Homo sapiens: one gene and its partners. The protein of the gene in region 1 purifies or fractionates together with the protein of each later gene. This does not show direct contact. Each region holds a gene or a part of one and is shown in the gene's direction. Other genes may lie near its edges.

Evidence for each region.
Region 2: the proteins of HSF2 (region 1) and ALDH3A1 purify together in Homo sapiens (affinity purification with mass spectrometry; one large-scale study listed by BioGRID and IntAct). This does not show direct contact.
Region 3: the proteins of HSF2 (region 1) and USP49 purify together in Homo sapiens (affinity purification with a luminescence readout; one large-scale study listed by IntAct). This does not show direct contact.
Region 4: the proteins of HSF2 (region 1) and ACP3 purify together in Homo sapiens (affinity purification with mass spectrometry; one large-scale study listed by BioGRID and IntAct). This does not show direct contact.
Region 5: the proteins of HSF2 (region 1) and ZC3H14 purify together in Homo sapiens (affinity purification with mass spectrometry; one large-scale study listed by BioGRID and IntAct). This does not show direct contact.
Region 6: the proteins of HSF2 (region 1) and A2ML1 purify together in Homo sapiens (affinity purification with mass spectrometry; one large-scale study listed by BioGRID and IntAct). This does not show direct contact.
Region 7: the proteins of HSF2 (region 1) and ANKLE2 purify together in Homo sapiens (affinity purification with mass spectrometry; one large-scale study listed by BioGRID and IntAct). This does not show direct contact.

The regions. Positions count from the first base shown.
Region 1 is NC_000006.12:122,412,927-122,417,031, forward strand, and holds part of HSF2 (heat shock factor protein 2), read left to right. Parts: intron 1-598; coding exon 599-723; intron 724-3,294; coding exon 3,295-3,370; intron 3,371-4,105. UniProt on the Homo sapiens protein: DNA-binding protein that specifically binds heat shock promoter elements (HSE) and activates transcription. In higher eukaryotes, HSF is unable to bind to the HSE unless the cells are heat shocked.
Region 2 is NC_000017.11:19,738,004-19,742,108, reverse strand, and holds part of ALDH3A1 (aldehyde dehydrogenase, dimeric NADP-preferring), read left to right. Parts: coding exon 1-105; intron 106-898; coding exon 899-1,016; intron 1,017-1,631; coding exon 1,632-1,773; intron 1,774-2,434; coding exon 2,435-2,601; intron 2,602-3,013; coding exon 3,014-3,113; intron 3,114-3,655; coding exon 3,656-3,786; intron 3,787-3,873; coding exon 3,874-3,888; 3' UTR 3,889-4,105. UniProt on the Homo sapiens protein: ALDHs play a major role in the detoxification of alcohol-derived acetaldehyde. They are involved in the metabolism of corticosteroids, biogenic amines, neurotransmitters, and lipid peroxidation.
Region 3 is NC_000006.12:41,794,376-41,798,480, reverse strand, and holds part of USP49 (ubiquitin carboxyl-terminal hydrolase 49), read left to right. Parts: exon of another isoform or gene 1-836; intron 837-1,757; coding exon 1,758-1,948; 3' UTR 1,949-4,105. UniProt on the Homo sapiens protein: Deubiquitinase that plays a role in several cellular processes including transcriptional regulation, cell cycle progression or innate immunity.
Region 4 is NC_000003.12:132,323,720-132,327,824, forward strand, and holds part of ACP3 (prostatic acid phosphatase isoform PAP precursor), read left to right. Parts: intron 1-4,105. UniProt on the Homo sapiens protein: A non-specific tyrosine phosphatase that dephosphorylates a diverse number of substrates under acidic conditions (pH 4-6) including alkyl, aryl, and acyl orthophosphate monoesters and phosphorylated proteins.
Region 5 is NC_000014.9:88,604,223-88,608,327, forward strand, and holds part of ZC3H14 (zinc finger CCCH domain-containing protein 14), read left to right. Parts: intron 1-3,020; coding exon 3,021-3,141; intron 3,142-4,105. UniProt on the Homo sapiens protein: RNA-binding protein involved in the biogenesis of circular RNAs (circRNAs), which are produced by back-splicing circularization of pre-mRNAs.
Region 6 is NC_000012.12:8,846,129-8,850,233, forward strand, and holds part of A2ML1 (alpha-2-macroglobulin-like protein 1 isoform 1 precursor), read left to right. Parts: coding exon 1-94; intron 95-1,381; coding exon of another isoform or gene 1,382-1,420; coding exon 1,421-1,570; intron 1,571-2,591; coding exon 2,592-2,786; intron 2,787-3,540; coding exon 3,541-3,631; intron 3,632-4,031; coding exon 4,032-4,105. UniProt on the Homo sapiens protein: Is able to inhibit all four classes of proteinases by a unique 'trapping' mechanism. This protein has a peptide stretch, called the 'bait region' which contains specific cleavage sites for different proteinases.
Region 7 is NC_000012.12:132,748,231-132,752,335, reverse strand, and holds part of ANKLE2 (ankyrin repeat and LEM domain-containing protein 2), read left to right. Parts: intron 1-1,486; coding exon 1,487-1,693; intron 1,694-4,004; coding exon 4,005-4,105. UniProt on the Homo sapiens protein: Involved in mitotic nuclear envelope reassembly by promoting dephosphorylation of BAF/BANF1 during mitotic exit.

The DNA.
Region 1 (4,105 bases):
TTAGCTTAAAAAAAAAAAAAAGTTTAAGTTCCTGCTAGAATATGAGCTCCCTGGAAGACTTTTTCTATAGTTTGTAATTGTACATCCAGTACCTACAATAAGTCTCTTCTAATAATATAAATATGCCCACATAGTAGGCATTCAGAAATACATTCAGTAATATATTTTTTAATGCATAATATCTTTTGGTAAAATAAGATATTTTACTAAATCTGTAAAAGGGGTGGACCATGAAAGAAAATGGCCTAGCATGAACCTTTTACTGCATAAATTTAATTAAATGTGGAATGTGGTAATAAAGAGGCTTGGGGGAAATTGCAAGGAGCTTGGCATAAGGGGAGAATAAAAGACTCTAAGATATTCCTGCTTGCGGAAACTTTTTAACATTAAAAAAAAATTTTTTTTAAGTAGATTATTCCTTGCGTTCTCTCCCATTGAGCTCTGAAGTTTATTCTTTCCCTAGCATTTCATCCCGGGCTTTTGGAACCAGATCTCACTTCCTGAACAGGCTACGAAAACCTCTTCTAATAGGGAAGCTTTGAATTACAATCATGGGTGTTTACTGTTTCTTTGATTTTCTAAATTTACTTTTTCAAAGGTTTCATCTTCAAAACCAGAAGAAAATAAAATTCGTCAGGAAGATTTAACAAAAATTATAAGTAGTGCTCAGAAGGTTCAGATAAAACAGGAAACTATTGAGTCCAGGCTTTCTGAATTAAAAAGGTAAAGTGTTATTTCCAAATATAATTTTAATCTGGGAATTGGGTATGTGTCTATGTGTGTTGAGTTTGGAGGTTGTCTGATGTTTTATTGTAAGTACTCAGATCACTTTGTTGAAGCCAAGATCAAAGGTCATTTTTCTGCAAGTATTGGTTCCCTTTACTTTGATTTGTGGCCACTGACTTTACTCTAATATTGTTTTAATTATGATAGTCAGAAGAAGATATAAACCTAAGCGTATCAAAACAGTTTGATGTATAAGTCTTAGCAATAAACAGTAGGTCTTTAAGATGATGTAGGAAATATGATTCTATTTAGGTTAGCTCATATGGTGCTCATAGACAATGAGGGCATACGACATAAAAACCCTGTATGTTACCCATCCTTTGTTTAATGGCTGTCTCTTAAGATTTCTTTGTGTGGACTCTTAGGAAAAAGTAGGACACAAAAAAATCGGAAAACGATGCAGGAGAGTTGCCATGCTTGATACTTATTTCGTATAGACTTGGAAAAGTGTTATTCAGAGCTTTTATCTACAGAAAGATGCTTCGTTTTATTTTACTACATTTCTTGGTTACCATTATTGTAACTTGCCATACTAATAACTTGTGTATAGAGTAGATAGTGTATTACTCTTCTTAGTAAGTAGCTGGAATTTTTCTGTATCCTAATAGGTGCCAAGGGCTTAAGAGTGGTTACTTTACATATTCTCTCTTCCATATCAGATGTGAGACGTTACTTTAGTTAATCATAACTCAAATATCTTCATTAAAAGAGGAACCTATAACTTTGATTTCTTTTTTAAATAAGCTTTAGGCTTTCTCTTCTTGTGTATTTAACAACTTGTTTACTGTATGTATCTTGTGTATACTAGCTGCTCTTTGACCCAGTTCCTTGGGACCACAGTTTCAGCCTTTAAAGAAAGTGATCCCCAAATCATTTTTTGTACCTTAGAGGGAACTTTCTTCTCCTTATCTTTTTGTTTGTTTGTTTTTGTTTTGAGACAGTCTCACTCTGTTACCCAGTCTGGAGTGCAGTGACTTGATCTTACCTCACTGCAATCTCCGCCTGCCGGTTCAAGCGATTCTTGTGCCTCAGCCTCCCTAGTAGCTGGGATTACAGGCATGTGCCAGCTAATTTTTGTATTTTTAGTAGAGATGGGGTTTCACTGTGTTGGCCAGGCTGTTCTCAAACTCCTGACCTCAAGTGATCCGCCCACATCGGCCTTTCAAAGTGCTGGAATTACAGGCACGAGCCACCGCACCCAGCCCTACTTATCTTTATTTAGTAAGCAGATAACAACATTTTTTAATTTGAATCAGAAAAATACAGTAGTTATTCAGTAAATATTAAAATCTCCTTTGGTATACCCTTATATGTAAATCTCCAGTTCCTTTTATATTAGTTTGGATTAAAGAAGATGACTTGTGGAGAATAACAAAAGATGGAAAATTAAAGCATTTAATAGGTATTCAGCATTCTCCGTGCTGCGAACATTTAACAACATAATGCAGTTTCAATTAAAAAAGGTGAACGAAGAAGAAGCTATTCATATTTGGCAAGTTATTAGTTTATTATTGGATATGCTTTTTCAGAATAACATTTTAGTGGTTTACATATGCTGTTGTTTGAGATAGATCTTAAGATAGTTTTAGAATCTGACAGACTTTAGTTTGATTTCAACACTTACCAAATTATTTGTATGATCTTGAGCAGTTCCCCTCAATTCTCTGTACCTCAGTGTCCTCATCTATAAAATAGAGATGATGACTTATTTCTTGGTGGTTTTTAGAGAAATTTTAAATAAGTAATACACATAAAATGTCTAGCATAGTGCTTAGAGTATAGTAAGTGCTGGGTATATATCACTACCCTTTATTTCCTAAGGTGATTAGGAAGGCCTGAATTCACTTGGTAACCACAGTTGAAAGATTAGCTTATTTTTTTTTAAGCAAAAAATAATGAGCCAGATTGTCAAAAGTAGTAAATTGCCAACTACTATATTGATGTAGGCATATGTCTTAAGTTTCTGTGTATCTATTGTCATGAGTAGCAGATACTACACTTAGGAAGGAATGATTCTGGTGCTGGGTGCGGTGGCTCATGCCTGTAATCGCAGCACTTTGGGAGGCCGAGGTGGGTGGATCACCTGAGGTCAGGAGTTTGAGATCAGCCTGGCCAACATGGCAAAACCCCGTTTCTACTAAAAATACAAAAAAAATTAGCTGGTTGTGGTGGCACATGCCTGTAATCCCAGCTACTTAGGAAGCTGAGGCACGAGAATTGCTTGAACCCTGGAGGTGAAGGTTGCAATGAGCCGAGATCGTACCACTGCACTTCAGCCTGGGCGACAGAGCAAAGCTACACCTTTTTTTTAAAAAAAGAATGATTCAGGAGTTGTGTCAAGGTAGTTGTCATTCCTATGTAATTGAACCAAAGTTTTCTTGGTCTCATAAATACATATAGTAAAAACAAGTGTAGTTCAGTTGTCTGGTATTCTTAATTAAAGATACTATGGTCTGGTTTTTTGATTGATTTTTTTTTTGTTTTGTTGCTTAATAAATTATAACATAGTGAGAATGAGTCCCTTTGGAAGGAGGTGTCAGAATTACGAGCAAAGCATGCACAACAGCAACAAGTTATTCGAAAGGTAAGAAGCTCTTTTCCCCAGGACCATAATTTGCATTTGTTTAATGAGTACTGTTTGTGACCCAAAAAGGTCTTTATTGAGTGTCTGTGATTGATCTTAGTTTCTTACATATTGGATGCACAGATAGAAGTAAAAAATGAAATGAAATTAAGCCAAGTGTTACACATTTTTAATAAAAAATTTCTCACTAGCTAAAGATGGTTATTCCATACTCGCAGATAATGTCTCAGTAGCTTTTAGTAAATGATCTTTTGCCTAATATAACAATTTTGAAATACTTTATTTTTATGAGCATAATGAATACACTACCAATTTCTTTTAAAATTAGAAAACATAGCCTTACTGGTTTTTTTTGTTGGTTTTTATTATAAAAGGCATAGTTAAGGTCTCAGAAGATAAATGACAAATATTTTCAAATCAGTTGACCAAATTATGAGTTCAGAAAATGATTTCTCAATGTATGCTGTTATTAGTCTGTGGAGAAAAGCAGTTAACATAGTGTTGTAAAATGAATTTTAGATTTTAGTATCTGAGCTGAAAATTTAATAGAGGAGTTGGAATCCCTCCGTTTCATTGTGTCCTTGTGATTTAATCTTTGCATATCAGCTTTCATTTGCTAATAAGAGATGAAACATAGTAATTAAGGCAGCTATTTTTTGCTCATGAGTAAACTAGACTCTGAGTTTAAGCAACAGGTTTTTTGAGGGGGAGCTTCTGATTGCTCCTGCTTAGAAG
Region 2 (4,105 bases), on another chromosome or scaffold:
CATCATGACGGCTGCTGCCAAGCACCTGACCCCTGTCACGCTGGAGCTGGGAGGGAAGAGTCCCTGCTACGTGGACAAGAACTGTGACCTGGACGTGGCCTGCCGGTGAGAGGCACGGGCCTGCTGGCTGCAGCAGTCCTTACTCTGCTTTCCAAGCACACATGACTGCACCTCATGCTGTGGGTCCACTCTGAGTAACACAGACACCCCCTGCCTCATGGAGCAGTGGTCCTTGCAGAAACTTACATGGGGGTAGGGGTGGGGACCACATGCACAGAAGACGTGTGGGGAGTCCCAGAAGGCTTCCTGGAGGGGGAGAGGTCTAGGCTGAGCTCTGTTTGCTGAGTGCGCATCACTGGGGAAGTGGTACTCCAAGCAGAGGCTGCAGAAAAAGCAGCTGTGGGACGTTCAGGACACAAGGAACTGTACTGGGTTCAGCCCTCTGATGGGGCAGGGCAATCTGAGTTCTGGAGAGCAGGCCCAGAGGGGAGAAGGGCCACCGCTGCTCGGGGTCTGGGGCAGAACCCGTATCTGCACCTCCTGACCCTAGCCAGGGCTCTGACCACCTCCATATCCCACATCTGTGGCCCCAGAGATGTAGGGGGGCCCGAGTAGCAGTGACACCTGGCTGTGCAGGACAAGGGCGTGATCAGGGAGCACGGAGGTTGCCCTCAACAGACGTCCTCTAGAAATTCCCCACCAGTCGCCGGTGAACATGATCAGGGCCATTGGGTCTGCTCGGTCCAGTGTCTAGAAGTGAGCAGACCGCTTGGGAGGACTCACTGGTGGCAAGGTCACAGCCGATGGCTTCTGCTGACCAGAGAGCTCAGGGGTCTGCAAAACGAGATGCAACTCCTGGGGAACCTTTTGGATTTAGTCCAGTCTGGGATTCTCACAGACGCATCGCCTGGGGGAAATTCATGAACAGTGGCCAGACCTGCGTGGCCCCTGACTACATCCTCTGTGACCCCTCGATCCAGAACCAAATTGTGGAGAAGCTCAAGAAGTCACTGAAAGTGAGTGTTGACCCCTTGGCAGGGTGGGATGAGAGGCTGTAAGGCACAAGGGGGGCCTGGCCCCTTAACCAACTTCTACAGATTTGGAAACACTGGATTTATTTTCTTCTAATATAAACATAATGCAAGCTAGGCATGGTGGCTCACACCGGTAATCCCAGCACTTTGGGAGGTAGAGAGTGGAGGATCACTTGAGGCCAGAAGTTTGAGACCAGCCTGGGTAACATAGCAAGATCCCATCTTTACAAAATATGTTTTTAAATTAGCCAAGCATGGTGGCATGGTGGTGCATGCCTGTTGTCTCAGCTACTTAGAAGGCTACGGCGAGGCTGGAGCATTGCTTGGGCCCAGGAGTTTGAGGCTGCAGTGAGCTATGATTGCACCACTGCACTCCAGCCTGGGCAACAGAACAAGACCCTGTCTCTAAGAGAAAAAAAAAAGATAATGCACACTCACTATAGATTATTTAGAAAAGATTAAAAAGCATAAAGAAGAAAAAAGCTCCACCCAGAATCCCACCACCCAAAGACAGACACTGCTGGCCTGTGTCTGTGCAGCCTTTGGGCAGGACGAGGCTCTGCGTCCTTACCCGAAGCCCCCACCTCTTCTCCACAGGAGTTCTACGGGGAAGATGCTAAGAAATCCCGGGACTATGGAAGAATCATTAGTGCCCGGCACTTCCAGAGGGTGATGGGCCTGATTGAGGGCCAGAAGGTGGCTTATGGGGGCACCGGGGATGCCGCCACTCGCTACATAGGTGCGTGACCCCTGAAGAGCACAGCCCACCTGCCCAGGCTGCAGGGGTCCCCAGCAAGTTCACAGCAAGTGGGCACAGATGCTTGATAAGCGGACACGACCTCGGGATGGGTATAAATTGCTTTCACCAGGGAGCCTGCGGTAGACTCCAGCAGGCAGGGGCTGAGGACAGCCCCTGCTTCAACCTCAGAATCCCCTCTCCCAGCAAAGGCCCAGAAAGAGGGGCCTCATCTCCCTGCCCCTCTGAAGCAGCAGGAGCAGGGACAGCAGAAGCCACAGGAGCCCCAGGTGTGCCCAGCCGTGAGGGGCCCCCAGTGCCCAGGCTGTGGGTCACCAGATGGGACCCTCTTGGCCCCGAGTTTGTCAAGGAGACAAGAGAATTCTGGCAGGGCATCAGGTGGCCGGCAGGTGCAGTGCCTGCTCCTGGAGACAGATCTCGGGTCCTTCCGTACAGGTTAACCTATAGTTGTCCCCAGTGGTCTGCTCAGATGGCATCCAGGACGCAGGTGCCTAGGGTACCTCTCTGAGGCCTCGTCCCTGCCCTTTTCCAAGCCTGGGCAGGTTTGCCTGGAAAAGGGTTGGAGCAGGGGTCTAGGTGCTTGCACTTTCCATCCGCGTGGGGGTCTCTGCGCCGTCCAACTCTGGCTTGTTTCCTGCCTCAGCCCCCACCATCCTCACGGACGTGGACCCCCAGTCCCCGGTGATGCAAGAGGAGATCTTCGGGCCTGTGCTGCCCATCGTGTGCGTGCGCAGCCTGGAGGAGGCCATCCAGTTCATCAACCAGCGTGAGAAGCCCCTGGCCCTCTACATGTTCTCCAGCAACGACAAGGTGGGTGGTGGGCCTGGGGTGCCCTCTGCCAGGGTCCTGGGGCCCACAGACCTGGGTTCAAACTGCAGCTTCACTGTTCTCTGGCTGTGTGACCTTGGGCAAGTCACTGGATCTTTCTGAGCTCCTTTCACCTCGTCTGTAAGATCAGGACAGCAGCATCACCTGAGGGCACTGAATGAGCGATCCTTGCCCAGGGCCCTGCACACAGGCATGGGGGCGGCTGCTGTCACTCTTTGCTCATGTGGTGCTGACAGCCACGCGGTCTGCAGGAAGAGCAGGAGATGGAGGCTAAGGCTCTGCCTCCACCTGCTCCTGTCCTTGTGGCTCCAGGCTATACCCAGGCAGGGTCGGGTTGGGGGCTGGGGCATCCTGTGGGCAGGAGACTGAGGCCAGTGGCTGGGTCCTGGTGCAGGTGATTAAGAAGATGATTGCAGAGACATCCAGTGGTGGGGTGGCGGCCAACGATGTCATCGTCCACATCACCTTGCACTCTCTGCCCTTCGGGGGCGTGGGTGAGTCTGGGGCTGAGCTTGCTGCCTCCCTCTGGGCCCCAGGGCTGGGCACACTCACCCAGCAAATTCAGGAGGGACCACCTCCTGCAGCCCGGGCGGCAGCCTCCCATTAGCCTCTTCCATTTGGACCTTGGCCTCTGCGTGCCATCCATCAGACACACTTAACCTGGGAGCCTAGAGGTTCCTAGAGGTCACCTGGTGCACCGGCCTATTTCATGGAGGCCTGAGAAAGGTGACCCAGGCCAGAGGTCACACAGCCATTTAGTGGCAGAGCTGGGATTAGACCCTTGCTGGGCACTCCCACAGTGTGGATGCCCTGGGGACACCCTAGACATTGGCCACCCTCAGGAGGCCCAGAAAAGGGCCACAACCTGGGGCTGGGTGCTGAGGGCCATAGGATTTGAGGGAAGGATGGGTGATGGTGGCTGGGGCTCTGCCTCCCTGTCCCTGTGGTTCTGGGATACACCCAACAAGGTGGAGAGGGAAACCTGGGGCGTCCTGGGGGCAGGATGCTGAGCCCTGTGCTTACTTCTCCTCCGCAGGGAACAGCGGCATGGGATCCTACCATGGCAAGAAGAGCTTCGAGACTTTCTCTCACCGCCGCTCTTGCCTGGTGAGGCCTCTGATGAATGATGAAGGCCTGAAGGTCAGATACCCCCCGAGCCCGGCCAAGGTGAGAGGGGGAAGGCGCTGTGGGGGAGACCGGGCTGTGCGGGACCAGGGCCTGGGGATCACTGCCCACTCCGTGTCCCTTTCACAGATGACCCAGCACTGAGGAGGGGTTGCTCCGCCTGGCCTGGCCATACTGTGTCCCATCGGAGTGCGGACCACCCTCACTGGCTCTCCTGGCCCTGGGAGAATCGCTCCTGCAGCCCCAGCCCAGCCCCACTCCTCTGCTGACCTGCTGACCTGTGCACACCCCACTCCCACATGGGCCCAGGCCTCACCATTCCAAGTCTCCACCCCTTTCTAGACCAATAAAGAGACGAATA
Region 3 (4,105 bases), about 81 Mb from region 1:
AACATGGTTAAACCCCGTCTCTACTAAAATAGTACAAAAATTAGCCGGGCGTGGTGGTGGGCACTGGTAATCCCAGGTACTCAAGAGGCTGAGGCAGGAGAATCGCTTGAACCTGGGAGGCAGAGGTTGCAGTGAGCCAAGATTATGCCACTGCACTTCAGCCTGGGTGACAGAGCAAGACTCTTATCTCAAAAAAAATAAAAAGAATTATGAAAGTTGGATTCAAATTTTGGGTATATTACTAAGTAACAACATATGGTTGTTCTAAGAATTAAAAGGAACTGACATGTAAAAGTGCTTAGAACAGGACCTAGGCCCTGTGCAATGGCTCACACCTGTAATTCCAACACTTTGGGAGGCAGAGGCGGGAGGATTGCTTGAGGCCGAGGGTTCAAGACTAGCCTGGGCAACATAGCGAGACTGCATCTCTACAAAAAATTTAAAAATTATCCAGGTGTAATGGTGTGCACCTGTGATCCTAGCTACTTGGGAGGCTGAGGTGGGAGAATTGCTCAAGCCCAGGAGTTTGAAGTTGCAATGAGCTATGATTTCACCACTGCATTCTAGCCTGGGCAACAGAGTGAGATCCTGACTCAAATAAATAAATAAGAAGAGCAGTTGCCTACCACATAGTACTTATTCAGTCAGTGTTAGAGGATATTGTAGTATTATCAAAAGTATTGGTTATTGATAATATTACTGTTTTGTGGTAATGCTACTTCTGCACACCCCAGTTTCCTTCTTGGTTATGCAGAAACAGTAGAACCTGTGTAACCTCAAGGAGATATTGTATGAATCTCACTAGCCGCAGCTTATAATAAAGCCGAGAACATTTACTGAGCACTTACTATGTTCTTACTACTTCCCCTGCCATGGGAAGTGTGGGGATGCAAGGGCCCCTCCAAAGGAGCTTTAGGTCCTCATCCTCCAGAGTGGAGTCTTCCAGCTACTGCACTGACTGATGGGCTGCAGATGTGTTTTCAGCTGTTCACTCTTCTTGAACTGCACAGCCCTTGGGGCAGCCAGAGCTTGTGAATAAATACTTTTTTGTTCCTTCTAAATTTTCCTTCATCACTCCCCTCTATTTCCATTTCTCCTCTCCTCCTCCTCTTCCTCCTCATCTCCCCATTGCTTAGCCTGCAGTATCGCAGCTCTTTCTAGAAGGCCCTAGTGGACAATGAAAAAGCCTGAAGAAAACAAAGATAAAAATTGCAGTCAGTCGGCTGGGTGCGGTGGCTCACGCCTGTAATCCCAGCACTCTGGGAGGCCGAGGCGGGCGGATCACGAGGTCAGGAGGTCGAGACCATCCTGGCTAACATGGTGAAGCCCCGTCTCTACTAAAAATACAAAGAATTAGCCGGGCGTGGTGGTGGGCACCTGTAGTCCCAGCTACTCGAGAGGCTGAGGCAGGAGAATGGCAGGAGAATGGCGTGAACCTGGGAGGTGGAGCTTGCAGTGAGCCGAGAACCCACCACTGCACTCCAGCCTGGGTGACAGAGCGAGACTCTGTCTCAAAAAAAAAAAAAAAAAAAAAATTGCAGTCAGTCGATAAGCAGTACCGTGGGGCTTGGTGGGGTTAAAGCCAGTGGATACACAAAAGTCTGTCAGTTTCATTTACCTGTCCCTTCCCCACCAATAATCGAGGGTTGGCTCTATTCAGAACTTCTCTGTCCCTTTCTTCATCTCCTGATTTTGCCTGCTGACTAAAATATGAATTGGGTAGTCATTTTCTCTCTTTTTCTCCTTTGGTTTCCTAGGTTTTTGGGTCCACTGCAATGACTCAAAGCTGAATGTATGCAGTGTCGAGGAAGTGTGCAAAACCCAGGCCTACATCCTTTTTTACACTCAAAGAACAGTGCAGGGCAATGCAAGAATCTCAGAAACCCATCTCCAAGCTCAGGTGCAGTCCAGCAACAATGATGAAGGCAGACCACAGACATTTTCCTGAATGGGAGGCATGTATCAAAGACTGGCTTTTGTGTATTGGTGTCCATACATCTTTCCTCTTATAGGAAATAAGGCTACTGCAGGAACAGATTACTAGGTTTGCCTTGCTGGGTCTAGAGTAGAAGGTGCCAGGTGATTCGTGTCCTGTCGTAAATTTTATAGTCTCTTTCTTTTGAATGAGTTTGGGAGTTCCCTCCTTTCCTAAAAACAAAAGAAGTAACTTCTATGAAGATCCTTTCATCAGTTGCTTCTGAATATAGAGGGATCTGGGTGGAGGAAAGCGGGGCGGGGGGGTAAATCAATCATATCCACACAGGAGAGCAGCCATGTTTTCTCTCCATGATGTGATTCCCCTGCTAATCAGGACCTCCTTGCAGCACCAGAAGAACCCTCCGGATGTGAGCAGTCCTGGACAGAGCACGTGAGGAGGGGCCCTGGGCTAGCAGTTTGCTGGATGGGATTGGCTCCAAGATGGGAGATGAAGTCTAAAGGGTTTATTCCCACAAAGGAAGTAACCTTCAAGGGTTTAAAACAAACTTCCTTTTTTGGGGATAGCAGCTGAAGAGTGGAGTGAGATGCATGGAACAAATTTCCCCATGCAAAGTGGGATGGTTTTCATATGTCATACCCTCCCTACTTGCTGCTGTCATATAATCATTCCATACTTCTGAGACTGGCATGAATACCCCTTCATTCTAAAGAAGGGGCAGGTCATATAAAGAAGCAATAGACTAGCACATGTTCCATGCTGAGCCAAAGGACACTCCTGGCTATCTCAGTTCTGTAGCAGATCCCTGGTTCAGGTCTAGGGCAAGCACATGGTTTGGTTTAAATTGATTCTTAGGTTTTCTCAGAACTCAATTGAGGGTGGGCAGAGATAGCTGATGCTCCAGGGCTTATTGAAGGCCTGTCACCCGTTCTCACTTCAGTGCGGCATGCAGCTTCTTAGCCTGCAGCTTCTTTCTTGCTCCTGGAGAGCTAGAACATTCATGTTCACAGGGTTTGGGAGCTTTTGGTTCTCTAGGGTATGTTAACTGCTTAGGAGTCCACCTCGTACATATCTGAAGAGTTGATTACCAATGGCCTTGACCTGTTTCCTCCCAAATCTGATAATCCCTACTGTTGCTTTACCCCCCATACTCAGTCCATCAGAGAAAAAAACAAGAGTGCCCCGTCCTTTCCCCCAGTGCTAGTAAAATACATCTTCCTTTTTAAATTGGGTCAGTTTCTAAACAGAATGAAATTGCCCAGATAAAAACCCTTGTCCCCATCAGGCACCACTTCATTCTTAGTTCTTCACTTAGATTTGCTGGTGAAAGTGAATGCAAACCCTAACTTTTGTTGCTGTGGTCACTGCAGTGAGCCTCACTCAACCTGTCACTATGAATGCTCATCTTTTGACTGAGTATATCATATTAATGTTTGAATTCAGGTAGAAGTACAGTTGTCACTTGAAGGGAGTAGATGTGGAAGGGCGTTCGGGGAGGAGTGGGAAGTGGGGAAAGCCAGGCTAAAGAATGAGGGTTATAGCTTTAGCAATGTTGATGAGCCACATTTCCCACACAGATCTGTAGCATTTGCTGTTGACCTCTTTTGAGATGAACTCTCCCATAGGCCCTGCCAGGCAGCACTGAGACATGGAGGAAATTCAGACAAAAAATGGCTCACCCTGATAGGGAAGGAGTGACTATATTTTAAATTAAACTTGCTTTTTCCAACACTGTGAGGTTTCTGTAATATTTAGCTTTTATTTGGAAGCGATAGCGTATGGCATTTTTTATGCTGTTTGGTTTATATTGTCTACTGCAGGCTTCTTTGTATAAGCTTTGCCTGGGCTCACCCTCTCCTGGACACTGTTTTAAAGTGTCACCGCTGTCCATGCTGCCAGAGGCTCTGATGTGAAGCTGTACTCTCAAGATCCACGTTTTTAAGTCGGCATGATTAGTAATGACTTTTTGTGGCAATAGAAAAGCCCATTAACTCAAAAAAACCAAGGAGAGTAAAAAGGAAAGGAAACTATGAATCGTGCCTCATCTTTCATTGAATCCTATATTTATTATTCTAGAAAAAAAGAACTTACAAGATAGAGAAGAACTAATAGAGCATCTACTTTACCCCTCAGGCTGTCCAGTGGGGATAATTATTAATAAACATTTAA
Region 4 (4,105 bases), on another chromosome or scaffold:
GCTGAGGACATCAAGGTGAGAATATCAAGGTGGGTAGGGACCAGATCAGGTAAGATCTTGTGAGCCCTTGTAAGGACCTTTAATTTATGCAAAGAGCAATAGAACATGATATAATATCTAAGAGTGATGAGGATATAAAAGAAACAAGACTAGCCACATACAAGTTGATAATTGTTGGAGACAGTGGTGGGCTCATGATAAAAATCTCCACTTTTAGGCTGGGCACAGTGGCTCACGCCTGTAATCCCAACACTTTGGGAGGCCAAGGCGAGTGGATCACCTGAGGTCGGGAGTTCGAGACCAGCCTGGCCAACATGGCGAAACCCCGTCTCTACTAAAAATACAAAAATTAGCCAGGCGTGGTGGCAGGTGCTTGTAATCCCAGCTACTTGGGAGGGTGAGGCAGGAAAATCACTTGAACCTGGGAGGCAGAGGTTGCAGTGAGCCAAGATCATGCCATTGCACTCCAGCCTGGGCAACAAGAGCAGGACTCCATCTCAAAAAAAAAAAAAAAAAAACTCCACTTTTGTATATCTTTACATTTTCCACTGGATATAGCCTCGACTGTACTCACCAGGTTCTCCACACCCTAAGCCACATGCCAGATTTGTTTAGCAGATTCAGTGGAGCAGGTTCATTCATGGGGGCACCAAACCAAAAGTCCTTTTAAAAACAGTTACCTATGATTTAAAAGTGTGAAGTGATTGTAGTATGATGGGGAAACAGTGGGCCAACTATCATGAGAATTAGGAGATCTGGACAGCTACATGATCTCTTTGATCATATAGTTTTCTTACTTGCTCAGTGCAGCAGTAGTGCCAACCTGTCCTCAGACGGGGATGTAATAATTAAAAGAGGTAGCAGGGGAAAATTCTACAAACCATGGAGGGTTGTGCAAATGTAAGGAATTATTATTTTTTTTTATTTTTATTTATTTATTTTGAGACGGAGTCTCACTCTGTCACCAGGCTGAAGTGCAGTGGCACGATCTCGGCTTACTGCAACCTCTGCCTCCCAGGTTCAAGTGATTCTCCTGCCTCAGTCTCCCGAGTAGCTGGGACTACAGGCATGCGCCACCACACCCAGCTAATTTTTGTATTTTTAGTAGAGATGGGGTTTCACCATGTTGGCCAGGATAGTCTTGATCTCCTGACCTCATGATCCGCCTGCCTCAGCCTCCCAAAGTGCTGGGATTATAGGCATGAGCCACTGTGCCTGGCCAGGAATTGTTATTATCTTGGATGTCTTTCTATTACAATTACCACTACTACTGCAAAAATCCTAATTGCTAATAAAGTATTTTTAGGTTTTTAAAGGATTTCATAGAGTATGATTGCTGGACTGAGCACAGAGGTAATAATTGGTAGAGCAGCAGTTAAGAAGATTGCTCTACCACAGAATTAAAAGAATGTCTTCGCATAGTCCAAGAACTCCAGCTGAATTTTGAAACTCCAAAAGCTCAAGGAACACCAGCTTCACATTTGCCTGCGGGAGGGGTGTGTGCACACATTTTGATTTCCAGCCCTGGAAGTGGAGAATGGTTTATTAAGTGTTTCTCCAGGACATCCCTTCCAAAGGGTTGACAGCATGTTTGAGCAACTACCTTGGAAACACTTAAAACCTACTGAAATGTAGGGGAGTACAATTATTTCTGAACTATGGGCCAGAGTGAGAAAGTTTGCCCAAGTCTCATGATTATGTTCCAGTTCTCTGCTCTTCAAAACACTCTGCTAAGGTGACCACACTTGTTTTTCTCTCTCAGGCCATTCTGTCATTTAGTTGCATAACCTCAGTTCTATTCTTTCAATAATATACATAGTTCACAGTGCCTTCGGGGTAGTTTCCGTATCAAGGTTTTGGTTTCTTCTGATACAAAACACACACACACACACACACACACCCCTTCCAATCCTAGAGGAAAAGAGTATACTAAGTAGAGTTAATAAAGAAGCGTTAGATCCCAGACCATTCAGATTTAGCTGGTGGGACTGTGAGGAGTGTGATCATACAGAAATGAACCTCTCACAGGTGGTTAAGTATGCTGGAGTTGGAGGCACAGCCTGTGTTTGAATATCAGCTCTACCACTTCTTACATGCTGTGTGAGTTTAGACAGGTCACTTAATTAAGCTAAACTTCCTCATTTGTGAAATGGAAATAATAATAGTAACTGCTTTGTGGAACTGATGAGAAGATTACATCTATGAGAAGCACTTAGCACAGTTTCCAGGACAAAGTGAGTGTTCAAAAAATGTTAAGGAGTTACCGTTGTGGTTATAGGTTGGTGGGAAGCAATGTAAATTATTTTATTACAATGTCTCTCACCTGACTTCTCTTTGGCTAACTCAGTGGCTCTCAACTTGGGGTGATTTTCTGCCCCTATGGCAGAAAATGTGCCTTTTTCAGTTGTCACAGCTGGGGAATGTTACTGGCATCCGGTGGGTAAAGGCTAGGGATGCTGCTAGACATTCTACAATGCACAGGACAACCCCCACAACAAAGAATTATCTAGCCCAAAATGTCAACAATGCTGAGGTTGAGAAGCCCTAGAAACTAAAACAGTGTGGGGTTTGTAATTTATTGAAACCATGTAACAACTTTAGTTATTCAAAGACACATTTACCTGGGATATAAAAACTCTAAAATGTACTTCAATTGTGGAAAGAGGCATCAATGATTAACCATAATCATTTCTGATCATGACCAAGTCACCCCTGAGACTAGTAACTGCAGGTGCTCACAAAAAAATATGCAGCTGTCCTTCCTGCCTTCAGGGGATCATTCATGAAAGTAATTTCTCACCTGACCAAAATGATCGCTTAACATTTATTGCATCATTGCCCCTGTTTCTGTAGACTACTCTACCGAAGTTTTAATTTGTCACTAGTTTAAAGGGCCAAAAGATCTGTTTTCTTCAGATATTAGAGACACAAACCAAGCATCTCCCACTTTCTTGGAATTCCTTCTCAAAAATGACTAAAGTCTGAGACTGTTTTCTTATTTAATGTCTATTGAATTCTGTTTTACAGAATTTCAAAAGAGCAGGTTCTTAGCTTACTTTTCAATGGAACATTTTAGCCAGGTAGTATAAGTACAGGTGCGGGTAACCTCAGATAAATCAAGGTGTTATGCAGCTGTCTCTATATTAAAAATATTTGCTGACATCAGTGTAGACTTCATCTTGTAGTTCTTCAGTGTTTTCTTTCCTTATCTTTTGCTCATAAGATGGCTTTGTGTTTGGTTTGATATTATACTGAGAAAGCATATTAGAATCAAAGCACCAAGATTTCAAAAGTCCAGACTACTCTTCCCAAAGAGAAATGTGCAATCACAATAGCATGACATGGGTACAAATATAGAAGTATGTTATTAAAGTATTGAGAATTAGCTTTCCTAACCTCCCCACCTGCAATCTTTTACTCCTAATCTCCAAAAAATGAACAAATCATTGGCTCAAAATGGTCACAAATTGTATGTGGTGTTAAAAATCTATTATTTTTATTGTATATAAAATGTTGCCAGGTGTGGTGGCTCATGCCTGTAATCCCAGCACTTTGGGAGGCCAAGGCAGGTGGATCACTAGGTCAGGAGTTCAAGACCAGCCTGGCCAACATGGTGAAACCCCATCTCTACTAAAAATACAAAGATTAGCTGGGTGTGGTGGCGTGTGCCTGTAATCCCAGCTTCTCGGGAGGCTGAGGCATGAGAATCACTTGAACCTGGGAGGCAGAGGCTACAGCGAGCCAAGATGGTGCCATTGCACTCCAGCCTAGATGACAGAGCAAGACTCAGTCTCGAAAAAAAAAAAAAAGTTATACTAGTTGGGCACGGTGGCTCACACCTGTAATCCCAGCACTTTGGAAGGCCGAGGCAAGTGGACCACCTGAGGTCAGGAGTTCAAGACCAGCCTGGCCAACATGGTGAAACTCCATCTCTACTAAAAATAAAAAAATTAGCTGGGCGTGGTGGCAAGCGCCTGTAGTCCCAGCTACTCAGGCGGCTGAGGCAGGAGAATTGCTTGAACCTGGGATTCGCCACTGCACTCCAGCCTGGGCAACAGAGCAAGACACTGTTTCAAAAAAAAAAAAGTTATACCACTATTACTGT
Region 5 (4,105 bases), on another chromosome or scaffold:
CAGTGACACCATAAATAATATGTTAGTAAAAATTCTTGCCAGTGCTGTGGCCATTGTGCTGACAGCCATGATGAGTGGTGAGCCTCCTTTCCCATTGCTTTGACTGGGGACTCAGTGTTTCCCTGCTGCTCAAGGATGAAGCTTTGTAAGATTAGCATAGGGGTGTGGCTGGAGAGACTCCTGCAGAACAGTTCTCAGGAGTCTCTAGTCTCTGCACCACTTCCCCTGTGAGCAGGGAGTTTGAAACTGCAATTGCTTCTGGTTGGTTTTATGTTGGGTTGTTTCAAGGATGCTACCAACAACAACATCTGTTTTAACCTGCTGTCTTTTCACTCACTGTCATATGGCAGCACAGATTTTATAGCTTGCTTTCTTTGTTTTTTTTTTTTTTGAGATAGAGTCTCTCTGTCCCCCAGGCTGGAGTGCAATGGAGCCATCTCAGCTCACTGCAACTTCTGCCTTCCAGGTTGAAAGCCATTCTTCTGCCTCAGTCTCCCAAGTAGCTGGGATTACAGGCATGCACCATCACACCTGGCTAATTTTGTAGTTTAAGTAGAGACGGGGTTTTACCATGTTGGTCAGGCTAATCTCCAACTCCTGACCTCAAGTGATCCACCAACCTCGGCCTCCCAAAGTTCTGGGATTACAGGTGTGAGCCACCGTGCCTGGCCTATAGCTTTCAATAAAAGGTGAATTTGCCTCTTAAAATTTGAACAGAAAGTTTTAATAGTTTACAAAGTCGGTGTCAGCCAGTGAAGACTAGGGGCATGACCTTCGTATGACTTAATGTTTTTAAAAGAAAGATAAAGTTTCTTTGTAAGGTATTATTGTAATAATCACATTTCTTTGTAAAGTATTATATTGTTCCTGAGTATCTAGCTACTTTGCTTTCCAGCTAGGCTTCTCTTGGGTATTCTCTTAATCTTTTATTTGTACTGGGTTCTTGTGTATATATTATAGTCTGCTGTGTGTAATTTATTATAGGAAAAGGGTAAGACACATTTACTTTGCGGGGATGACACAAAAAACCTGTAAAAATTAGAGAAACTTCCAGTCATCTCACATTTTCTTTGGAACCGATTATTCTTGTATCTTAGAACTAAAATGACTTATACTGTTTTGTTTTTAGAAAGGGTATCCCTCCTGTTGCCCAGGCTGGAGTGCATTGGCACAGTCATGGCTCACTGCAGCCTCCACCTCCCAGGCTCAAGTGATTCTCCCACCTCAGCCTCCTGAGTAGTTGGTTACTACAGGTGCACACCACCATGCCTGGCTAATTTTTTGTATTTTTTGTAGAGATGGGGTTTCACCATGTTGCCCAGGCTGGTCTGAAACTCCTGAGCTCAAGTGATCTGCCCGCCTCGGCCTCCCAAAGTGCTGGGGTTACAGGCATGAGCCACCACATCCTATTTAAAGCTTAAATAGGACTTTTACTATTTTTAAAGTAGCATAGAAAACTGTTTGTATCAGGCATAGTCATAATTGCTCTTTGATGCTGCTCCTATCTGGGCTGCATGACTACATTTGTGTGCCTTGTTCTCCTGTAGTGAGGACAGAATGTGGGTCACTGGAACAGTAAGTACTCATAGAACTAGCTGCTGCTGCTATTACGACTGGTTGCCTGTTTTGCATTTTTTCCGTTTAATCATCAGACTCTAAGGAAGACATTATTTTCTCTTTGTATAGATGAGGAAACAGAATTCCAAAAAGTTAGCTAACATTTGCACAGAGTGTCTGGCTGAGCAACTAAGTGGCAGAGTCAGATTTTAACTGACCTCTGGCAAGAGGACTAGAGGAATACAGTTGAAGTGATACTTGCTTTCATGAACATGAATGTGAACCATAATACATAATACCCATGATGCTATTTTGTGGGGAGTTTAAGGTGTCTCAGTCCAGAAATTAGCAGCTGATTATTGCCTGTAGCTGTAATTTTACTTATTCAGTGTTATTTAATAAATTGCCAGCATTACAATTTCGATGAAGGCAGATTTTTGGCTTACTGAAACAGGATAAAAATCTGGCAACAGGGGTCCCACTTTGCCCTGTCATAGTAATCGAAGCTGTGATTGGATGTGGCACAGGGAGTGGAGTGGATGGGTGTGCACTTGCTTTCCAGGCTGCTGCTCCCCGTCTGTCCCTTATTGCATTTATCATCTTCAGCCCAGTCAGTCTTGCTGTTAGGGGAACTGCCCAGTCTCTGTAAGTGATGGCATTTGTGACCCCATTGTAGGTAAAAATGTTTTCCCCTTTTTAGACATTGCTGGCTGAGCGCGGTGGCTCATGCCTATAATCCCAGCACTTTGGGAGGCCGAGGTGGGTGGATCGCTTAAGTCCTGGAGTTCAAGACCAGCCTGGGCAACGTGGGGAAACCCTGTAGCCAGGCGTGGTGGCACGTGCTACTTGGTAGGGGCTGAGGTGGGAGTATCACTTGAGCCTGGGAGGCAGAGGTTGCAGTGAGCCGAGATTACACCACTGGCACACCACTGTACTCCATCCTGGGTGACAGAGCAGGACCCTGTCGTAAAAAAAAAAAAAAAAAAAAAAAGTAAAAGACATTGCTGAGTTTCGCACCTGGACTTACAGCTCAGCAGGTGGGAATCCTTTTGTATTTGGGCCACTCATCATCTTGCTGGCGTGTGAGGATTCACATCTCCTTATCACCTTACCTGTTTTCAGTTTTTATTTAATTTTATTAGTTCCCCACTTGACGTCCTTCTCTATTTTTAATTCAGCTATGAATTAGTATTGAGAATTAGAATTTTTGGTGAAAAATTTGGCCGTAGTTGCAGAGTCACTGTCCTCTTTCCTTTTCACAGTGAGAACTGTTGTCTTCTTCCTGGCAACCTTTTATAGGATTCTATGGCCAGTGTTAATCCCATAATTTGAGCTCACTTATTTTATATGACTGTACATTTAACAGAAGATTCTAAGACAGGTTTGAGGGAAATATGTTAAAGGTGCTGTGTACTGAATTGATCATAATGAATGAAATACTTTTATTTCCTTTCCCTTTGTAGCTGAGATGAGTGAACTGAGTGTGGCACAGAAACCAGAAAAACTTTTGGAGCGCTGCAAGTACTGGCCTGCTTGTAAAAATGGGGATGAGTGTGCCTACCATCACCCCATCTCACCCTGCAAGTGAGTACCATCCCCCCATCTCACCCTGCAAGTGAGTACCATCCCCCCATCTCACCCTGCAAGTACCATCCCCCATCTCACCTGGCAAGTACCATCCCATCTCACCCAGCAAGTACCATCCCCCACATCTCAACCCTCAAGTGAGTACCATCCCATCTCACCCTGCAAGTACCATCCCATTTCACCCTGCAAGTACCATCCCCCATCTCACCCTGCAAGTACCATCTCCCCATCTCACCCTGTAACTACCATCCCATCTCACCCTGCAAGTGAGTACCATCCCTGCATTTCACCCTGCAAGTACCATCTCATCTCACCCTGCAAGTACCACCCCCTCATCTCACCCTGCAAGTATCATCCCCCATCTAGCCCTGTAAGTGCGAGTACCATCCCCCATCTTACCCTGCAAGTACCATCACCCACTTCACCCTGCAAGTACCATCCCCCACCTCAGCCTGCAAGTACCATCCCCCACCTCAGCCTGCAAGTACCATCCCCTATCTCACCCTGCAAGTACCATCCCCATCTCACCCTGCAAGTATCATCCCCCACCTCACCCTGCAAGTACCATCCCCCATCTCACCCTGCAATTGAGTACCATCCCCCATCTCACCCTGCAAGTACCATCCCCCATCTCACCCTGCAAGTGAGTACCATCCCCCATCTCACCTTGCAAGTACCATCCCCCATCTCACCCTGCAAGTACCATCCCCCATCTCACCCTGCAAGTATCATCTCACCCTGCAAGTGAGTACCATCCCCCCATCTCATCCTGCAAGTACCATCCCCCATCTCACCCTGCAAGTACCATCCCCCATCTCACCCTGCAAGTACCATCCCCCATCTTACCCTGCAAGTGAATACCATCCCCATCTCACCCTGCAAGTGAATACCATCCCCATCTCACCCTGCAAGTGAATACCATCCCCCATCTCACCCTGCAAGTGAATACCATCCCCATCTC
Region 6 (4,105 bases), on another chromosome or scaffold:
TGATCCTTCCCTGGTGATCTATGCCATTTTTCCCAGTGGAGGTGTTGTAGCTGACAAAATTCAGTTCTCAGTCGAGATGTGCTTTGACAATCAGGTAAAATGATAGCGGAGAAGGGTGAAGATAAAAGTTGGGCATAGAGAAAGATCTTGTGTGTGCTGCGGTTGGAAACAAGACAAGTCAGGGAAAGAAGATAGTGTTGACGTTGGATGTTGTATTATATTTATATCTTTAGTGTTTGGGGTTTGTGTTGAAATCCATCTCTCTCCTACTTTTTATTTTAAGAAGTCATGCTGGCTGAGGTGCAGTGGCTCACTCCTGTAATCCCAGTGCTTTGGGAGGCCAAGGCAGAGGGATTTCTTTAGGTCAAGGGTTCAAGACCAGCCTGGACAACATAGCAAGATCCTGTCTGTACAAAAAAATTTTTAATTAGCTGGGTGTGCAGCACTTTGGGAGGCCGAGGTGGGTGGATCACCTGATGCTAGGAGTTCAAGACCAGCCTGGTGAAACCGTGTCTCTACTAAAAATACAAAAATTAGCCAAGCATGGTGGTGGATGCCTGCAATCCCAGCTACTTGGGAGGCTGAGGCAGGAGAATTGCATGAACCCAGGAGACGGAGGTTGCAGTGAGCAAAGAACACACCATTACACTCCAGCCTGAGTGACAGAGTGAGACTCTGTCTCAAAAAAAAAAAAAAAAATTAGTTGAGTGTGGTGATGCATACCTGTAGTCCCAGCTAGTCGGAAGGCTGAAGCAGGTGTATCGCTTGAGCCCAGGAGTTCAAGGCTGCAGAGCGAGACCCTGTCTATTTTTTTTATTTTTTATAGACAGAGCTTTCCTCTTGTTGCCCAGGCTGGAGTGCAATGGTGCGATCTCGGCTCACTGCAACCTCTGCCTCCTGGGTTCAAGTGATTCTCTTGCCTCAGACTCCCGAGTAGCTGGGATTACAAGTATGCACCACCATGCCTGGCTTTTTTTTTTTTTTTTTTTTTTGTATTTTTAGTAGAGACGGGGTTTCACCATGTTAGCCAGGCTGGTCTTGAACTCCTGACCTCAGGTCATCCACCTGCCTTGGCCTCCCAATGTGCTGGGATTACAGGCATGACCCTGTCTCTATTAAAAAAAAAAAAAAAAAAAGCCATACTGGGAAGCCACATGTTCTATATAGTTATTCCACATGTTCTCTCTACTTTTTGTCTTCTAAACTTTCTCTATCCTTCTACTGTGCTGCTCACGTTTCCCAACTCTATCACGGCATACACGTCCTGAAGAGCTAGACTTTACAAAGAAAGATAAGTACAAAAGTGAAAGAATGGGTTGGATGTCATAGCTGGGGCATATTTGCTGATGACCCAAATTATGTTGTTTCCCTTCCTTTCCAGGCTGACCTGATCCCCAAGTTATACCTTTCCCTTCCCCAGGTTTCCCTTGGCTTCTCCCCCTCCCAGCAGCTTCCAGGAGCAGAAGTGGAGCTGCAGCTGCAGGCAGCTCCCGGATCCCTGTGTGCGCTCCGGGCGGTGGATGAGAGTGTCTTACTGCTTAGGCCAGACAGAGAGCTGAGCAACCGCTCTGTGAGTAACTGTCTGCTGACAGAGTGGGAGGAGGGAGTTGATGGAGAAGACAATTAAGAGGTAGGTTTCAGGCAGGGGAGAGAAAGTCTTAGGGAAATAATGCACTGCCATAAGGCGGTAAAAAGGCTGGTGTGAAAATGAAGTTAGAAAGTGTAAGAGGGCTGGGCACGGTGGCTCACGCCTGTAATCCCAGTGCTTTGTGAGGCCGAGGCTGGCAGATCACCTGAGGTCGGGAGTTCGAGACCAGCCTGACCAACATGGAGAAACTCTGTCTCTACTAAAAATCCAGAAAAAAAAAAAAAAAATTAACTGGGCATGGGCCCATGCCTGTAATCCTGGGGAGGCTGAGGCAGGAGAATCACTTGAACCTGGGAGGCGGAGGTTGTATCATTGCCCTCCAGCCTGGGCAACAAGAGCAAAACTCTGTCTCAAAAACAAAAAAAAAAAAACAAAAACAAAAAAAGAAAGGATAAGAGAAAGGCATGGTTAGTATGAATGCAGAGACAAGAAAAGAGAATGAGCCTGTAATCCCAGAACTTTAGGAGACCAAGGCAGGCAGATCACCTGAGGTCTGGGGTTCAAGACCAGCCTGACCAACATGGTGAAACCCTGTCTCTACTAAAAATACAAAAATTAGCCAGGCATGGTGGCGCATGCCTGTAATCCCAACTACTCAGGAGGCTGAGGCAGGAGAATTGCGTGAACCCGGGAGGCAGAGGTTGCAGTGAGCCGAGATCGTCCCACTGCACTTCAATCTGGGCGACAGAGCAAGACTCCGTCTCAAAAAAAAAACAAGAAAGAGAACGAAATAGGGGATAGGATTATGAAAAAATAGGTGAGATAGAGGTTAAAGTTTTAGACAGTGAGAAAGGTAATTATGACAGAATGAATATAAAAATAATTCTGAAGTAATAAAGAGAAATGATACAGGAGTAGTGAACTGAGCACCAGAATCTGAGAGAAGTTTCTCAACTGATATCACTATATCAATGCTTTATTTCCTCTCCCCCTCTTGTCCCAGGTCTATGGGATGTTTCCATTCTGGTATGGTCACTACCCCTATCAAGTGGCTGAGTATGATCAGTGTCCAGTGTCTGGCCCATGGGACTTTCCTCAGCCCCTCATTGACCCAATGCCCCAAGGGCATTCGAGCCAGCGTTCCATTATCTGGAGGCCCTCGTTCTCTGAAGGCACGGACCTTTTCAGCTTTTTCCGGGTAGGTCTTCTTACCCATTTTGTTCTTATGGGAAAGATGGTGGTGGGAATGGGCAAAGGAAAGTTCATATCTAAGAAAGCAGAGAGACTCATATGGGCACTGATGGGAACAAAATCTTGAAAGAAGCTTCTGACGTGTAAGGTCGCCTCTGTTGGCCCTTATGCTTGAAGAAGATGTCCAACCTAGTCTTCCTCTTTTTGTTGTCCTCAAACACTGATTTCCATGAGATCAATCAGGAGGGAAAATTAGAGAAGGTAGACCAGAGGTCTCTTATCATTATTATAAAAAATAATTTGCACCTATTCTATGAGCAGGATTTGGGATGCTGTGTGACCCAAGTCTGACCAGGAGGTCCCTGAGGTCAGGAACTAGGTCTTGTTCATCTTTGTATTCTCTCTAATGCCTGACCCTTCATAAGGCTCATTGTATTTTTGTTGAATTGAGTACGCTGATATGGTCCCTACCCTCAGCATGTTTACAGCGTAAGTCAAATAGTAAGGACATAGCGAATAATATTTGGCAGAACCATTACATGTATGTAATGATGAAATAAGTTTAACTGAAAGCCTTTCATGCTAGCTGGAACAGAAGCCAACCAGCCTCAGTGGCTGAGTTTCAGGTAAGAACACCCAGGTTCACCATTAATTCAAAAAGAATGTTTTGTTTCAACTCTTTGATGGTGGAATTCCTGGGCAGTAGCCCTTGTAGTTGGGGAAGGGACCACCTTAATACTTATTTCTCTGATGCCTATCAGGACGTGGGCCTGAAAATACTGTCCAATGCCAAAATCAAGAAGCCAGTAGATTGCAGTCACAGATCTCCAGAATACAGCACTGCTATGGGTGGTAAGCCACCTCTGTGGTCTGTGGATTCTCTGAGATGTTAACAGTCCTGGAACTCTGCAGATTTCCTCTTGCCTCCTGTTCTTGCACTGAGCCTCTAGCCCGAGAATGCTAATGGGTTGTGGGTCACAGATGCAGGACAGTTTCCCAAGTGTTCTCTCTCTGGGGAGAGCTTTTGAAGCCTGAAGCTTATGTATCCATTCCCCGGCCAAACCTCCTTGGCTATCACTTCCCTCGATGGCCTTTGTGACTAGTTAGTTCCTCTTTGGTCCTTCCTCCTTGCCTCTGACTGGATGTTCTCTGCTTCCCTCTAAATTTCTTTCTAGTAATCCCTCCATCCCAATTTATGTCACAACAAGAAGTCTCCTGTTTCCTAAAGTTTTCGTATTCTCAATTTCATCAGCAGGCGGTGGTCATCCAGAGGCTTTTGAGTCATCAACTCCTTTACATCAAGCAGAGGATTCTCAGGTCCGCCAG
Region 7 (4,105 bases), on another chromosome or scaffold:
ACAGAGTCCCGGTCTGTCGCCAGGCCGGAGTGCAGTGGTGCGATCTTGGCTCACTCCAACCTCTGCCTTTTGGGTTCCAGTGATTTTCCTGCTGCAGCCTCCCGAGTAGCTAGTACTACAGGGGTGTGCCACCACGCCCGGCTAATTTTATATTTTTAGTAGAGACAGGGTTTCTCCACGTTGGTCAGGCTGGTCTCAAACTCTCAACGTCAGGTGATCCACCTGCCTCAGCCTCCCAAAGTGCTGGGATTACAGGCGTGAGCCACCGTGCCCGAACTATGGCTATTTTTATCCAGTAGTGGACAGTAACCATTCGTCTGTTACATTGTTCATAAATTTTTGTCTCCTGGCCAGTAGTGTATATCTTATGTATTTACGATAGTCTCATACAAAACTTAATTGTGATAGTTCCACTACAGAGCTTTAATATTTTTATATAATCAGGATTATCTTGTTTTGAATGGTTTCTTGGCATGTTTAAAAAGGCATTCCCAGCCGGGTACAGTGGCTCATGCCTGTAATCCCAGCACTTTGGGAGGCTGAGGTGGGCAGGTCACCTAAGGTCAGGAGTTCAAGACTAGCCTGGCCAACATGGTGAAACCCCGTCTCTACTAAAAATACAACAATTAGCCAGGCATGGTGGCCGGTGCCTATAATCCCAGCTACACGGGAGGCTGAGACGGGAGAATCGCTTGGACCTGGGAGATGATGGTCGCAGTGAGCCAAGATCACACCACTGCACTCCAGCCTCGGCAGCTGAGTGAGACTCCATGTCAAAAAAAAACAGCCATTCCCGGCTGGGCGCCGTGGCTGACACCTGTAATCCCAGCACTCTGGGAGGCCGAGGCGGACAGATCACCTGAGGTCAGGAGTTTGAGACCAGCCTGGCCAACATGATGAAACCCCGTCTCTACTAAAAATACAAAAAATTAGGCATGGTGGCGGATGCCCATAATCCCAGCTACTCGGGAGGCTGAGGCGGGAGAATCGCTTGAACCTGGGAGGCAGAGGTTGCAAGAGCCAAGATCGTGCCACTGCACTTGAGCTTGAGCGACAGAGCGAGACTCCGTCTCCAAAAAAAAAAATAAAGTAAAAAATAAAAAGGCGTTCCCTGTTCAAAATTGTGTTTAAAATTCTCTTATGTTCTTGGCTGACATAATTATAGTTTTTTTTTTTAATTTGCCTTTTAATAATTTTTATTTAGATCTTTATATGAAATTTAGTTTTTAGGATAGAATCTTGGCATATAGAATTACATATATGAACATAATATATATCATGTTACATGCATATATGCACACTGTCGAGCTTGTTAATTGTTCTATTTTGGCTAGCTTAGGCCCTTTTTCTTCAGGATTAAAGATCTGAACTAAGCCAGGCGACTGGGTAGCAGATGTGGAAGCTGATGGTTAGGCCCAGGGCATGGCCAGGTGACAGCTCTCCAGTCACTCTTCTCTGATTTTCATTTGTTACTTTTCTTACCCAGAAAGGATCTATGTTTATGAAAATAAAAAGGAAGCATTGCAAGCTGTCAAGATGATCAAAGGGTCCCGATTTAAAGCTTTTTCTACCAGAGAAGACGCTGAGAAATTTGCTAGAGGAATTTGTGATTATTTCCCTTCTCCAAGCAAAACGTCCTTACCACTGTCTCCTGTGAAAACAGCTCCACTCTTTAGCAATGACAGGTTGAAAGGTAAATCATGCAGCCGTTCACATCTTGATGTTCCTGTCACATTGATCCCACCCTGTTTTGTGCCTTCTTTCCTCTGATGTGGTAACTTGTTTTCTCCATGAGGGTAGAGTCGATGGGGTCTCAGTGGACCAGGAGGCCATGCTGGCTCTGATGCTCGTGTAATTAGCATCTTGACTCTGGAGAAGCTGAAAAGAACGCTGTGGCCGCTTCCATCTGTCCCCGTGTCTGTTGGATTTTTTTCTTTTTTTTTTGTAAAGAGACAGGGTCTTGTTCTTTTGCCAGCCTGGAGTGCAGTCTGGTGCTATCATGGCCCACTGCAGCCTCAAACTCCTGGGCTTAAGCAATCCACCTGCTTTAGCCTCCCAAGTAGCTGAGAAATAGGCGTGCACCACCACACCCAGCTAATTTAAACTTTTTCTTTTTTTTTTTTTTTTTTTTGAGATGGAGTCTTGCTCTGTCGCCCAGGCTGGAGTGCAGTGGTGCGATCTTGGCTCACTGCAAGCTCCACCTCCCGGGTTCAAGCGATTCTCCTGCCTCAGCCTCCCGAGTAGCTGGGATTACAGGTGCACACTGCCACACCCGGCTAATGTTTGTATTTTTAGCCACCATGTTGGCCAGGCTAGAATTTAAACTTTTTTTATGGAGACAGGGTCTTGCCATGTTGCCAAGGCTGGTTGAATTGCTGGCATCAAGTGATCCTCCCATCTCAGCCTCCCAAAGTGCTGGGATGACAGGCGTGAGCCCCTGCGCCTTTTTGGATCCTGAAACCAGTCTACTTCCCCACCTGAAGCTATACCTACTTCAAGGACTAGGGCATCTGGAGAAGGCGGGCTTATCTGTAGGAGCGGTCCAGCCCGAAGTCTGACCCATGCCCACCTCCCAGCTCAGAACTAGGGTTTTGTGTGAAGAGGCTCTTCACGGTCAGTGTGGGGTAGAACCTCCGCCTTTACCTTTCATCTGGCCTCAGTTCCTGCTCCCTCTCGCAGCTCACAGTTGTCTGGGCTTCCCTGGCGGGCTGGTACTCCAGAGGAATGTTGCCCTCTCCTTCCAGTCATCCGCCTGCCCTCAGTCAGCCTTATACAGGTGCTTCCTGGATGGAAACCAGAGTGGCTTCTAACAGGTACGGATTTCCTTCTTTGCAATTTGTGAGGATTCCTCAGAAGGAAATCACCTTAAGACAGAAATCAGGCCGGGCGAGGTGGCTCACGCCTGTGATCCCAGCACTTTGGGAGGCTGAGGCGGGTGGATCATCTCAGGTCAGGAGTTTGAGACCAGCCTGGCCTACATGGTGAAACCCCGTCTCTATTAAAAATACGAAAATTAGCTGGCCGTGGTGGCAGGTGCCTGTAATCCCAGCTACTTGGGAGGCTGAGGCAGGAGAATTGCTTGAAACTGGAAGGCGGAGGTTGCAGTGAGCTGAGATCGCGCCACTGCACTCCAGCCTGGGCGAAAGAGCAAAACTGCGTCCCCCCCAAAAAAATCAGCTGGGCGTGGTGGCAGGCTCCTTAATCCTGTAATCCTTTGCAGCCACACTGTGCACATCGAAGGTCTTGCGTGATTTCTGGGAGTGTTCCCTTGCCCGCTGCTGCCGTTATTCCTCCTCCACCTACTGACCGAGCTTTCAGAGTTCACTGGCCGGGTGTGGTGACTCGTCCCTGTAATTACAACACTTTTGGGGGCTGAGGCAGAAGGATCCCTTGAAGCCAGGAGTTTGAGACCAGCCTGGGCAACATAGACCTCATCTCTAAAAATACGTGTGTATATATATATATATATATATATGTATATAAGCCAGGCGTGTTGGCATACAACTGTAGTCCCAGCTACTTGAGGGCCTGAGATCACTTGAGCCCAGGAGGTCGAGGCTGCAGTGAGCTATATTCGTGCCACCACACTCCAGCCTGGGTAACAGAGCCAGACCCTGTCTCTGAAAAAACACAAAGTTCACCAAACTTGGCCTCATTCACAGAGCCTTTCCCAGCAAGATTGTGGCAGGGTCTGGCTGCTCTTCCACTTGCTGTGCTCATGGGGGCGCGCTGGCTGCCGTTGTAGGCTGGGGCCCCCAGTGAGATTGTGGCCGGGTCTGGCTGCTCTCCCTCACTTGCTCTGCTGACGGGCACGCTGGCTGCCATTGATTGCGTTGCATGCTGGGGCCGGTGGCCGTGGGCCCTTCTCGTCTTTTCTCACCTGTGCCTCCCAGTTGGCCCAGAAGCCTCTGTGGAAAGCTGCTTATCCCTCATCAGAGGGTGCATGGGTGATGAGTGACTTTTGGTGAAACTGATTGTTCTTAAATTCTGTCTCTTACTGACAGATGGTTTGTGCTTGTCGGAATCAGAAACAGTCAACAAAGAGCGAGCGAACAGTTACAAAAATCCCCGCACGCAGGACCTCACCGCCAAGCTTCGGAAAGCT